Homo sapiens: one gene and its partners. Changing the gene in region 1 together with any one later gene gives a genetic interaction. Each region holds a gene or a part of one and is shown in the gene's direction. Other genes may lie near its edges.

Region 1 (2,985 bases):
TTCAGAAATGGAAAGTTACAATTAAAAGAAAAAGTTTATGTATTCATTGCTTATAGTGAAAGGGAGGAAGGAAAATGCAAATATTTTGTCTAAAACCATGCTATTGTATTATAAGTCTTTTTTGGAACTGTAAATATTTCATTATGTAGAATCAAACATACAGATTTGGGTAGTAGACTGACCATAGAGATCTCCATTAAATAAACTGTTTACACTTTTGTAGATTTTGAGGCATTATGTTGCATTATATTATGATGTGTTAAAAGCCTTTTACCCATTCTTCCTTTCTGCTAAGCAGAGGTTAATATATTTTCTGCCTTTCTGTTATAGAACAAGTTATGATTCACTTATTTGGCATAATATGGCTACTGCTTCTTCTATAATCTTGAACTTTCAAGGCAAATTTTATATTCCTGGTTTCACATCAAGCTATAATTACAGTTTTTTAAAATTAGAGCTCATTTGACTCTTTTAGGTAGCTCTGAGCCCAGTATGATATCAGTTTTTTGGTGTGGCATTGAGATTGGTAATAATGTTTGATCCATTTAAAATTATGGTACATCAACTACATCTGGAAAAACACAAAGGGGAACCCAGAGGCTCGTGTGAGCAGTTTTCATCAGATCTTTACTTCAGAATGTGTTACCAAAACTTTAAATTAGAGGTGTCTCCTAAAGTTGAATGATTGGCAAATCTTTATTGGAATCAACTTATTGTGACATAAAAAGAATTGTTAGAGGCCATATGAGAATGAGATGGGTCAACACCACCTCACTAGTTGACTTGGTGTGAGCCTTACAACCCTCTGAATCATGGGTTCCCTATATTCTCATTATGTACCAGGCTGGTTGCCAATAGTGTCTTGTTGGACTTGACAGCTGAAATGCTTAGACTTTAAAGCCATTATTAAAATAAAAGTACTGGATATATATTGATCTCAAGAGTTTAACATGCAAATTCTTTCTCAAAGCATTTCTGCTTTAAGAAAGATGCCCTTTTCAGTAAATGGCATCAATAAATGCCCTTTCAGATCAATAAATGCCCTTTTCAACATATTTAGCATTCACAAATTCAGTTAAGTAATAAAAGTAACTATGCCCATGCTTTCTTTTATAGCTGATTAATAATTGCATATTGACACATGCCATCTTATTGATGATGTATACTGCCTCAGCAAGCTTCTTCCTTTTGGTCATATTTCTCTGATCTTGTTTTTTTTCTCCCGCATTGGTTTCATTTTCATTCCTGCTTTTTCTTCTTGACATATATATATATATATATATATATATATATATATATATATATATATATGTTAAGACAGCTTGCAGAACTGCCCTGCCCCCACTTTTATTAATTTGAAAAGCAAATAACTCTGAAGTAAACAGTATGCCTGTGATCTTTTGTGCAGTCTGTATTTCTGCCCAGACTCCCTATTTGTGTCCCTGTAATGTCTGGGAGGAGGCCAGGGTATAGAAGCCATTGCAGTGGAGAGCCACATAGAGAAGAGCCATTGGAAGCAGCTCTGGAGGCACCCCTCCCCAGGCCCTGCCTGCGCCTGCCTCACTGCGAGGACTTCTCCCCTCTCAGAGCCACTCACCACAGTTGCCAGACGTGCAGTGCTTTATTTTCTGCTGGACTGGAGCATTTAGCTTGTTAATGTTTCTTTAGAAAGATAATTGTTTCTAGTTAAACATGTTGTTTGAAAAATATACCCAGATGTATATTTTTATGTCGTGGTGCTATAATTTCTACTTTTTTCCCCTTCAAAATATCTAAGTTACTGGAAAATTTCAACTTAGGAACAAATCTGTTGGAGAAAGTGAGGTATGTTTAAGTGTTTATTTCTTAAGGAAAGTAAATGTTCTACATAAAAAATGATTATTGAGATAATCACTGTTAACTAATTTAAAAACAAAAAATGTCATTTAAGAGGCCCATATAGCATCAATATCAAGTAAACAATTATGTCACCTTTTGCTTTAGGAAACCAAATATCACTGCTAACCCATATGTCGTCTTTTTATTTTTTCTTCAGGGTATGACAAGGCAGCAAAGATTGCTAAGACAGCACACAAAAATGGATCAACCTTAAAGGAAACTGCTATCGAACTTGGCTATCTCACAGCAGAGCAGTTTGACGAATGGGTAAAACCTAAGGACATGCTGGGTCCAAAGTGATTTACATAAATTTATAATGAAAATAAACATGTATAAAATTTAAAAAAACAGACTCCCATTTCTTAAAAACGGATAAGTTTGAAAGGAAACTGCTATTGAACTTAAGCATCTCTAGCAGAGCAATTTGATCAGTATATAAAACCCTAGGATGTGCTAGGTCTAAGATGGATTAAACAAGTATAAAATAAAATACATTTATAAAATAAAAAGGAAAACAGACTTAAATTTTCTCCTATGTTAATTGACTTGTATTATAGTTGAATCTATGATATTTGTGCATGTTGTCTTTGTGACTTCATAAGTTACCAATTTCTAAAGGGTTTTAATTTTGGAGGTTATTGGTGGTTTAAAAAATTGCCCGATTATATCTTATTATCTCATTCCCAAACTATGTCCTTAGCCATCTTTTATTTTCCTTTGATTTGGAGACACAGTGACCAAGCCCTTTTGAGTGGGGATGTGTATATGTGTGTGTGTGTGTGCACGCACGTGTGTGTGTGTGATAGAATAGGTTAAGAAAATTGGGACATACATATCCTGTGTGTTAAACACACACCTATCCCTCCAACCTTGTTTCTGTTACCACAGAGGGACCAGATCAAGGCCAGGCATGGTGGGTCAGGGACACCGACTTTAGGAGACTGCGCTTTGGGAAACTGAGGCAGAAAGATCATTTGAGCCTAGGAGTTTGAGACCAGCCTGGGCAGCATAATGAGATCCCTATCTCTACAAAAAATAAAACAAAAATTAGGCAGGCTTGGTAGTGTGTGCCTGTAATCCCAGCTACTCAGGAAGCTAAGGTGGTAG
Region 2 (3,658 bases), on another chromosome or scaffold:
TGCTTCCTCTAATCACCATTCTCTCTGGACATTTTTGCCCATTTTCACAATTCACTGTGGTTTAGCATACAAGACAGTCTATTCATTTGTGTGTTAGTTAGGATGACTGGCTATTTCCTTTTCCTGAATCTGATGAAGGAATTTAAGTAAAGCTGACCTAATTTTGATGTAGACGAGATGTAGTCTTGTGATACTTTGCCAGTTACCACTGCTTTTACCAGCATGTGTTACAGTGGAAATGTTCTAACATACATGAAGTAGAGAGAAGAGCATATGAACCCATGCACCTGTCACCGGCGTCCATGGTCAGCACCTGTTCCACCCCTGTTCTCTCTGCTTTTTGTGGAGACCACCTGTGGATTGTCCAGTGGTGGGCTGCTGTTTGGCAGTTTGACCCTCCAAGAGCATTAGACGGTGTTTGTCTTAGTCTGTTTTGTGCTGCTGTAACAGAACACCACAGGTTGGGTAATTTATAATGAATAGAAACGTATTTGCTCACTATGCTGGAGGCTGGAAACCAAGATCAAGGTGCCAGCATCTGGCAAGGGCCCTCTTACTGCATCATCCCATGGTGGAGGGCAAGAGGTCAAGGGGAGAGAAAGAAGCCCTGCCAAAAGCCCCCTGCCCCCACCCCTCCTTGGGTTTTTTTTTCTTTTTTTTTGGAGACAGGGTCACACTGTGTCGCCTAGGCTGGAGTGCAGTGGTGTGGTCATAGTTCAGTGCAGCCTTGATCTCCTGGGCTCAAGCTGTTCTCCCACCTCAGCCCTCCTGGTAGCTGGGACTCAGCTGTGCACCACCACACATGACTAATTTTTTTCTTTTTTCTATTTTTAGTAGAGATGCGGTTTCACTATGTTGCCCAGGCTGGTCTCAAACTCCTGAGCTCAAGCAATCCTCCTGCCTCGGCCTCCCAAAGTGCTAGGATTACAGGTGTGAGCCACTGCACCTGGCCGGAAAGCCCTTTTAAGAAGGCATGAAGCCCATCCAAGAGGGTGGGGCCCTCACGGCCTAATCACTTCTTCAAGTTCTCACCTCTTAATACTGTTACAAGGGCAAATAAATTTCAACATGAGTTTTGGAGGGGACAAACATTCAAACCATAGCAGTGTTTCTGGTGCTTTTTAAAAAAAACTTGCTGGATTTTTTTTTTTTTGAGACAGAATTTCACTCTTGTTGCACAGGCTGGAGTGCAATGGTGCTATCTCCGCTCACTGCAACCTCCACATCCCGGGGTCAGGCGATTCTCCTGCCTCAGCCTCCCGAGTAGCTGGGATTACAGACACCCACCACCATGCCTGGCTAATTTTTGTATTTTTAGTAGAGACGGGGTTTCACCACGTTGGCCAGGCTGGTCTCGAACTCCTGATCTCAGGTGATCCGCCCTCCTCGGCCTCCCAAAGTGCTAGGATTACAGGTGTGAGCCACCACGCCTGGCCTGGATTTCTTTTTTTGAAAAAAAAATATACATATACATACTTTTTAAGTCAGTGAGATTTGAATTATAGCATTTGTCTGTCATTGTGGCTTCCCTTCCTCTTTAACCTCCCGTCACACCCATGCATCTTCCTTTTGTGAAATGGGGTGGAACTAGTGACTAAAGATTTGGATTGGAAGTCAGAGGCCGCCTTTGGGCTGGGGCGTTTATCTGAAAAGAGGCTGAACTTTGTCATTTGTTGAGTGAACAGAGCTCTTCTCTTGTCTCTTAGGCATGAGTCAAAGGAATGGTGTGAGGTCCTTGAGGAACATTTTCACTGAGGTCTCTGTCTTCCTATTTTCTATTGATTTGTCTTTCTCATAACTGGGTAGTCTCCCACCGCATGGGGCTGTTTAGCAGTTCTAGCCTTTTCCCAATTGCTGTTTGTATTGCTTCTGGCTGTTAAAAAGAGTGCTGCTATGAACATATATGCTTTTGTTTTGTTTACTTATAAATATATTTCCTGTGGCTGGGTGCAGTGGCTCACGCCTGTAATCCTATACTTTGGAAGGCTGGATCACTTAAGCCCAGGAGTTAGAGACCAGTCTGGCCAACATGGCAAAACGCTGTCTCTACTAAAACACAAAAAATTAGCTGGGTGTGGAGGTGTGCACCTGTAATCCCAGCTACTCGAGAGGCTGAGACACGAGAAGTACTTGAACCCGGGAGGTGGAGGTTGCAGTGAGCTGAGATCGTGCCACTGCACTCCAGCCTGGGCCACAGGGTGAGACTCTGTCTCTAAATAAAAAGTTAATTAATTTCCAAAGCGGAATTGCTAGGTCAAAGGGGGAACAGTTTATTTGATATCTTGCAACTGAGAGTCAGATCATTGAGAGACTGGCAGTGCTGGAAATCGGCTCCCACTTTAAATGTATTTCTTCACATCCTTACCCCCAGCCTATAAGAGGCAGGATTTAGAAGGCAGGTGCGTGATGTCTAAGGCTGTGCGTGAATGTCTAGTCACCAGGTAACCCTCAGCAGAGGTGGTGTTTGGAAATGCCCCACTGGTAAAGAAGGAAGGTCAGTGGTTCGGGGCTTTCACCTGCCGTCGGGGCAGCCAGAGCCTGAAATGAAAGCACTTGGTAGCTTCGTGCCTCTCATGAATCTTCAAGATCAGAAAGAATTGTGTCAGTCCCCATGTCCTGGTGGCAGGGAGCTGGTAGAGGCTGAGACACTGGCTGAGTTCTGGAGGGAGCCCCATGGGACAGAGAAAGGGCCCCGCAGGGGATGGGAGGAGAGGTGAGGACACAGTGTACTTGGAGGGTGTCATGGGGGCGATGGGGAAGGTGGGGCAGGAACGTTGCCATCAGAGAAGCGGGACAAGAGCCCCGAATCCAGGGAGCAGAGAACTGCAGGAAGGAGGAGGTGGCCAGCGTGGTAAAGGGAGGAAGAAGCAAGAGTTAATTTCACAGATGCCACAAGGAGGGATTGGTTGTTAACTTTTTTAAAAATGTTATGATTAGAATATGAAAAACTTGGTAGAATTGGTTAAACATTCTAACTGTAGAGAGTAGTTAATTTTTGAACCAGAGAATTTCCATACTTGGTACACAGCAAGATCCTAAGATGGTATTGAATAGTTTCTTTCCTCAAAATAATGTCTGACTTCAATGTAATAAAACATGTATCTGAAACCCATAGTTATGAAAACATCTGTTTTTTAGTATTTAGTGAAAAGGTAATTCTTTAAGAAATGCAAATCAAAACCACAGTGAGATAACATCTCATGCCAGTTAGAATGGCGATCATTAAAAAGTCAGGAAACAACAGATGCTGGCGAGGATGTGGAGAAATAGGAACGCTTTTACACTGTTGGTGGGAGTGTAAATTAGTTCAACCATTGTGGAAGACAGTGTTGCGATTCCTCAAGGATCTAGAACCAGAAATACCATTTAACCCAGCAATCCCATTACTGGGTATATACCCAAAGGATTATAAATCATTCTACTATAAAGACACATACACACGTATGTTTATTGCAGCACTGTCCACAATAGCAAAGACTTGGAACCAACCCAGATGCCCATCAGTGATAGACTGGATGAAGAAAATGTGGCACATGGAATACTGTGCAGCCATAGAAAAGGATGGGTTCATGTCTTCTGCAGGGACACGGGTGAAGCTGGAAACCATCATTTTCAGCAAACTAACACAGGAACAGAAAACCGAACACCGCATGGTTCT
Region 3 (3,658 bases), on another chromosome or scaffold:
ATACTTTGAATTTTGATCTTTGTCCACATGAGCAATAAGTGGCACAATACTTTTGTGATGTGGGGGAGCACCAATGACCACATCCCCCAGTCAGAAACATAATCACAAGGGTAAACAGCTGATGCTGTACTCTGTAGTGTTGTGTGAGATACTCAGTGTTTTATTATAAGCTAGGCTTTGTGTTAGATGATTTTCTTCAGCTGTAGGCTAACATAAGTGTTCTGAGCACATTTAAGGTAGGGAAGGCTAAGCTATGATGTAAGTTAGGTGTATTAAATGCATTTTCAACTTAAGATATTTTAAACTTATGATGGTTTTATCAGAATGTAACCTGATGGTAAGTTAAGGAGCATCTATAATATAAAATTTGCCATCTTAACCATTTTTAATTGTACAGTTTAGTAGTGTTAAGTTCATTCACATTGTTGTGCAACCAGTCTCCAGAACTCGTCATCTTACAGAATTGAAACCCTATATCCATTAAGCAACCCATTCACACCTCCACTCAGACCCTGGCAGCCACTGTGTTACTTTCTAAGAATTTGGCTACCCCAGGCATCTCATAAGTAGAATCACACAGTATTTGTTTTCTTGTGACTGGCTTATTTCACTTAGCGTAGTGTACTCAAGGTTCATCCATGTTACAGCATGTGTCAGAATTTCCTTTCTTTTTAAAGCTGAATGATCTATTTTAGTTGTGTCACATTGTTATCCATTCATCCATCAGTAGATGCTTGGGTTGCTTCCACTTTTTGATTGTTGTGAGTGATGCTGTGAACCTAGGCATGCAAATATTCCTTCAAGGCCTTGCTATCAATTCTTTTGGGGTATATTCAAAAGTGGAATTCCTGGATCATATGATTTTTAATTTCTTAAGAAACTGCCATACCCTTTTCCATAGTGGCTGCACCATTTTACACTCTTTCCATCCTCCCCAACACTTGTTAATTTTTTTTTTAACAGGGTCTCCCTCTGTCACCCAGGCCGTAGTGCTGTAGTGCGATCATGGCTCACTGCAGCCTCAACCTCCCAGGCTCAAGGGATCTTCCTGCCTCAGCCTCCCAAGAAGCTGGCACTATAGGCATGTGCCACCACACCTGGCTAACTTCTTTATTTTTAGTAGAGACAGGGTTTCACCATATTACCTGGGCTGTGCTTGAATTCCTGGGCTCAGGCGATCCGTCCACCTTGGCCTCCCAAAGTGTTGGGATTACAGGCGTGAGCCACTGTGCCTGGCATAATTTTGGTATTTTTTGATAGTAGCCATCCTAATAGGTATGAGGTGGTATCATTGTGGTTTTGATTTGCATTTCCCTGATTATTTGTGTTCTTGAGCATCTTTTCATGTACTTATTGGCCATTTGTATGTTATCTTTGGAGAAATGTTTATTCAGTTCTGCTCATTTTCAAATTTGGTTTTTTGTTTATTGGTTGAGTTGTTCTGTATATATTCTGGATATTAACCCCTTATCAGATATGATTTGTAAATATTTTCTCCCATTTCATAGGTTGCCTTTTCACTCTGTTGTGTCCCTTGATGCACAGAAATTTTGATGTCGAATTTATTTTTATTTTTGTTCTGTGTGCTTTTAGTGTCATATTCAATAAATCATTGCCAAATCCAATGTCATGAAGTCTTTTTTATGTGTTCTTCTAAGACTTTTATAGTTTTAGCTCTTATGTTTAGATCTTTGATTCACTTGAATTTTTGTGTAGGGTGTAAAGATCCAACTGTATTCTTTTACATGTGGTATCCAGTTTTCCCGAAATCATTTAAGATTGTCCTCTTCCATGGAGTGGTCTTGGTACCTTGGTGAAATCATTTGACTCTAAATGCGAGAGTTTATTTCTGGGCTATTTCTTTAGTCTGTATGTCTGTCTTCGGGGCAGTACTACACTGTTTTGATTACAGTAGTCCGTTTTATCTAAGATATGTTTCAAGACCCCTCTAGTGGATTCTTGAAACCACAGATAGTACCAAACCCTGTATATATTATGTTGTTTTTCGTGTACGTACATACCTATGATGACGTTTAACTCATAAATTAGACATAGTAAGAGATGAGCAACAATAACAAAATAGAACAATTGTAGTGTATAGTAATAAAAGGTGAATGTGATCTCTCAATATCTTGCTGTACTGTACTCACCTGTTTTTGAACCACAGTTGACTGTGGGTAGAACTAAAGCGGTGGAAGGTTAAACCACAAATAAGGGATGACTGCTACACTGTAGCTTTGTAGTATGCTTTAAAATCAGTAAGTGTGAGTCCTCTAGCTTTGTTCTTTCTTTCACCCCACCCGGAGGGTGCTCTAGCTATTTGTGGTTCCTTAAGAGTCTGTGAATTTTAGGATGGATTTTTCTATTTCTGTAAAAATGCCATTGGGATTTTGATAGGGATTGCATTAAATCTGTAGATTACTTTGGTAGTATGGACATCGTAACAATATTAAGTATTCCAATCCATGAACACAGGATGTCTTTCCTCTTATTTGTATCTTTAATTTCTTTTAGCAGTAGTTTGCATCTTTAATTTCTTTTAGTGTTGCTACTCTCTTACTATGCCTAATTTATGAGTTAAGCTTTATTATAGGTATGTGTATATATAGGAAAAAACGTAGCTGTATAGGGTTTGGTACCATCCATAGTTTCAGTAATTCACTGGAAGGGTCTTGAAACATATCACCTTGGATAAAAGGAGACTACTATAATCAAAACAATGTGTCCAAGGACACACATTTCTTTCCGTACTTTTCCTTTATTTTATAGTGACATGTTTCAGTTTCCTTCTTACTTCCTTATGTGTATATTCTGTATTTTCTTTGTGGTTACCATGGGGATTGCATGAATGAGATTTGCTAATTTTTTTAGCAGTATACAGGTATATATCTGTTTCATCTAGGTCAGTGTTTAAGTCTTTCATATTCCTGATTAAATACATTCCTAAGTATTATTTTTGGTGCTATTATAAATAGAATTATTTTCTTAATTTCCTTTATTAGGCATTCCTTTATTTCCTTCATTGTTGGTGTGTAGAAAGAGCTGATTTTTGTATCCTCCAACTTAGTAGAATTCATGTATTCTGACACTTGTGTGTTAGAAATCTTTAGGGTTTGCTGGAGGTAAGATTATATGATCTGTAAACAGATAGTTTTACTTACTCCTTTCCTTTTTGGATGTTGCTTATTCCTTCTTGCCTCATTGCTCTGGCTAGGACTTCCAGTACTACAATGAATAGAAGTGGCAAGAGCGGGCATCCTTGTCTGGTTCTAGGTATTAGAGGAAAAGCTTTCACGTTTTCCATGTTCAGTATACTAGACTTGTCCTTTTTGGCCATTGTTGGGTTGAAGTACATTCCTTCTGTTGATAGTTTTGATCATGAAAGGATGTTGAATTTTGTCAAGTACTTTTTCTGCATTTTTTGAGATGTGTTTTTTATCCTTCATTCTGTCAGTGTGGTATGTCACATCTATTGATTTGCATATGTTGAACTATCCTTGCATCCTAGGGATAAATCCCACTTAATCATAGTACATGATTCTTTTAATGCGATGTCAAATCTGGTTTGCTAGTGTTTTGTTGACGATTTTTGCATCTGTGTTAAAGGATTTGGCCTATAGTTTTCTCGTGTGTTTGTCTTTGATATCAGGATAATGCT

The links.
Region 2: changes in FH (region 1) and CARS2 together harm fitness less than expected from each alone (positive genetic interaction), as found in Homo sapiens cells (one large-scale study listed by BioGRID).
Region 3: changes in FH (region 1) and COX6C together harm fitness less than expected from each alone (positive genetic interaction), as found in Homo sapiens cells (one large-scale study listed by BioGRID).

Annotation. Positions count from the first base shown.
Region 1 is NC_000001.11:241,497,021-241,500,005, reverse strand, and holds the end of FH (fumarate hydratase, mitochondrial), read left to right. Parts: intron 1-2,035; coding exon 2,036-2,178; 3' UTR 2,179-2,403; downstream 2,404-2,985. UniProt on the Homo sapiens protein: Catalyzes the reversible stereospecific interconversion of fumarate to L-malate. Experiments in other species have demonstrated that specific isoforms of this protein act in defined pathways and favor one direction over the other.
Region 2 is NC_000013.11:110,696,016-110,699,673, reverse strand, and holds part of CARS2 (probable cysteine--tRNA ligase, mitochondrial), read left to right. Parts: intron 1-1,706; exon of another isoform or gene 1,707-1,708; coding exon of another isoform or gene 1,709-1,756; intron 1,757-3,658. UniProt on the Homo sapiens protein: Mitochondrial cysteine-specific aminoacyl-tRNA synthetase that catalyzes the ATP-dependent ligation of cysteine to tRNA(Cys). In addition to its role as an aminoacyl-tRNA synthetase, has also cysteine persulfide synthase activity.
Region 3 is NC_000008.11:99,883,688-99,887,345, reverse strand, and holds part of COX6C (cytochrome c oxidase subunit 6C), read left to right. Parts: intron 1-3,658. UniProt on the Homo sapiens protein: Component of the cytochrome c oxidase, the last enzyme in the mitochondrial electron transport chain which drives oxidative phosphorylation.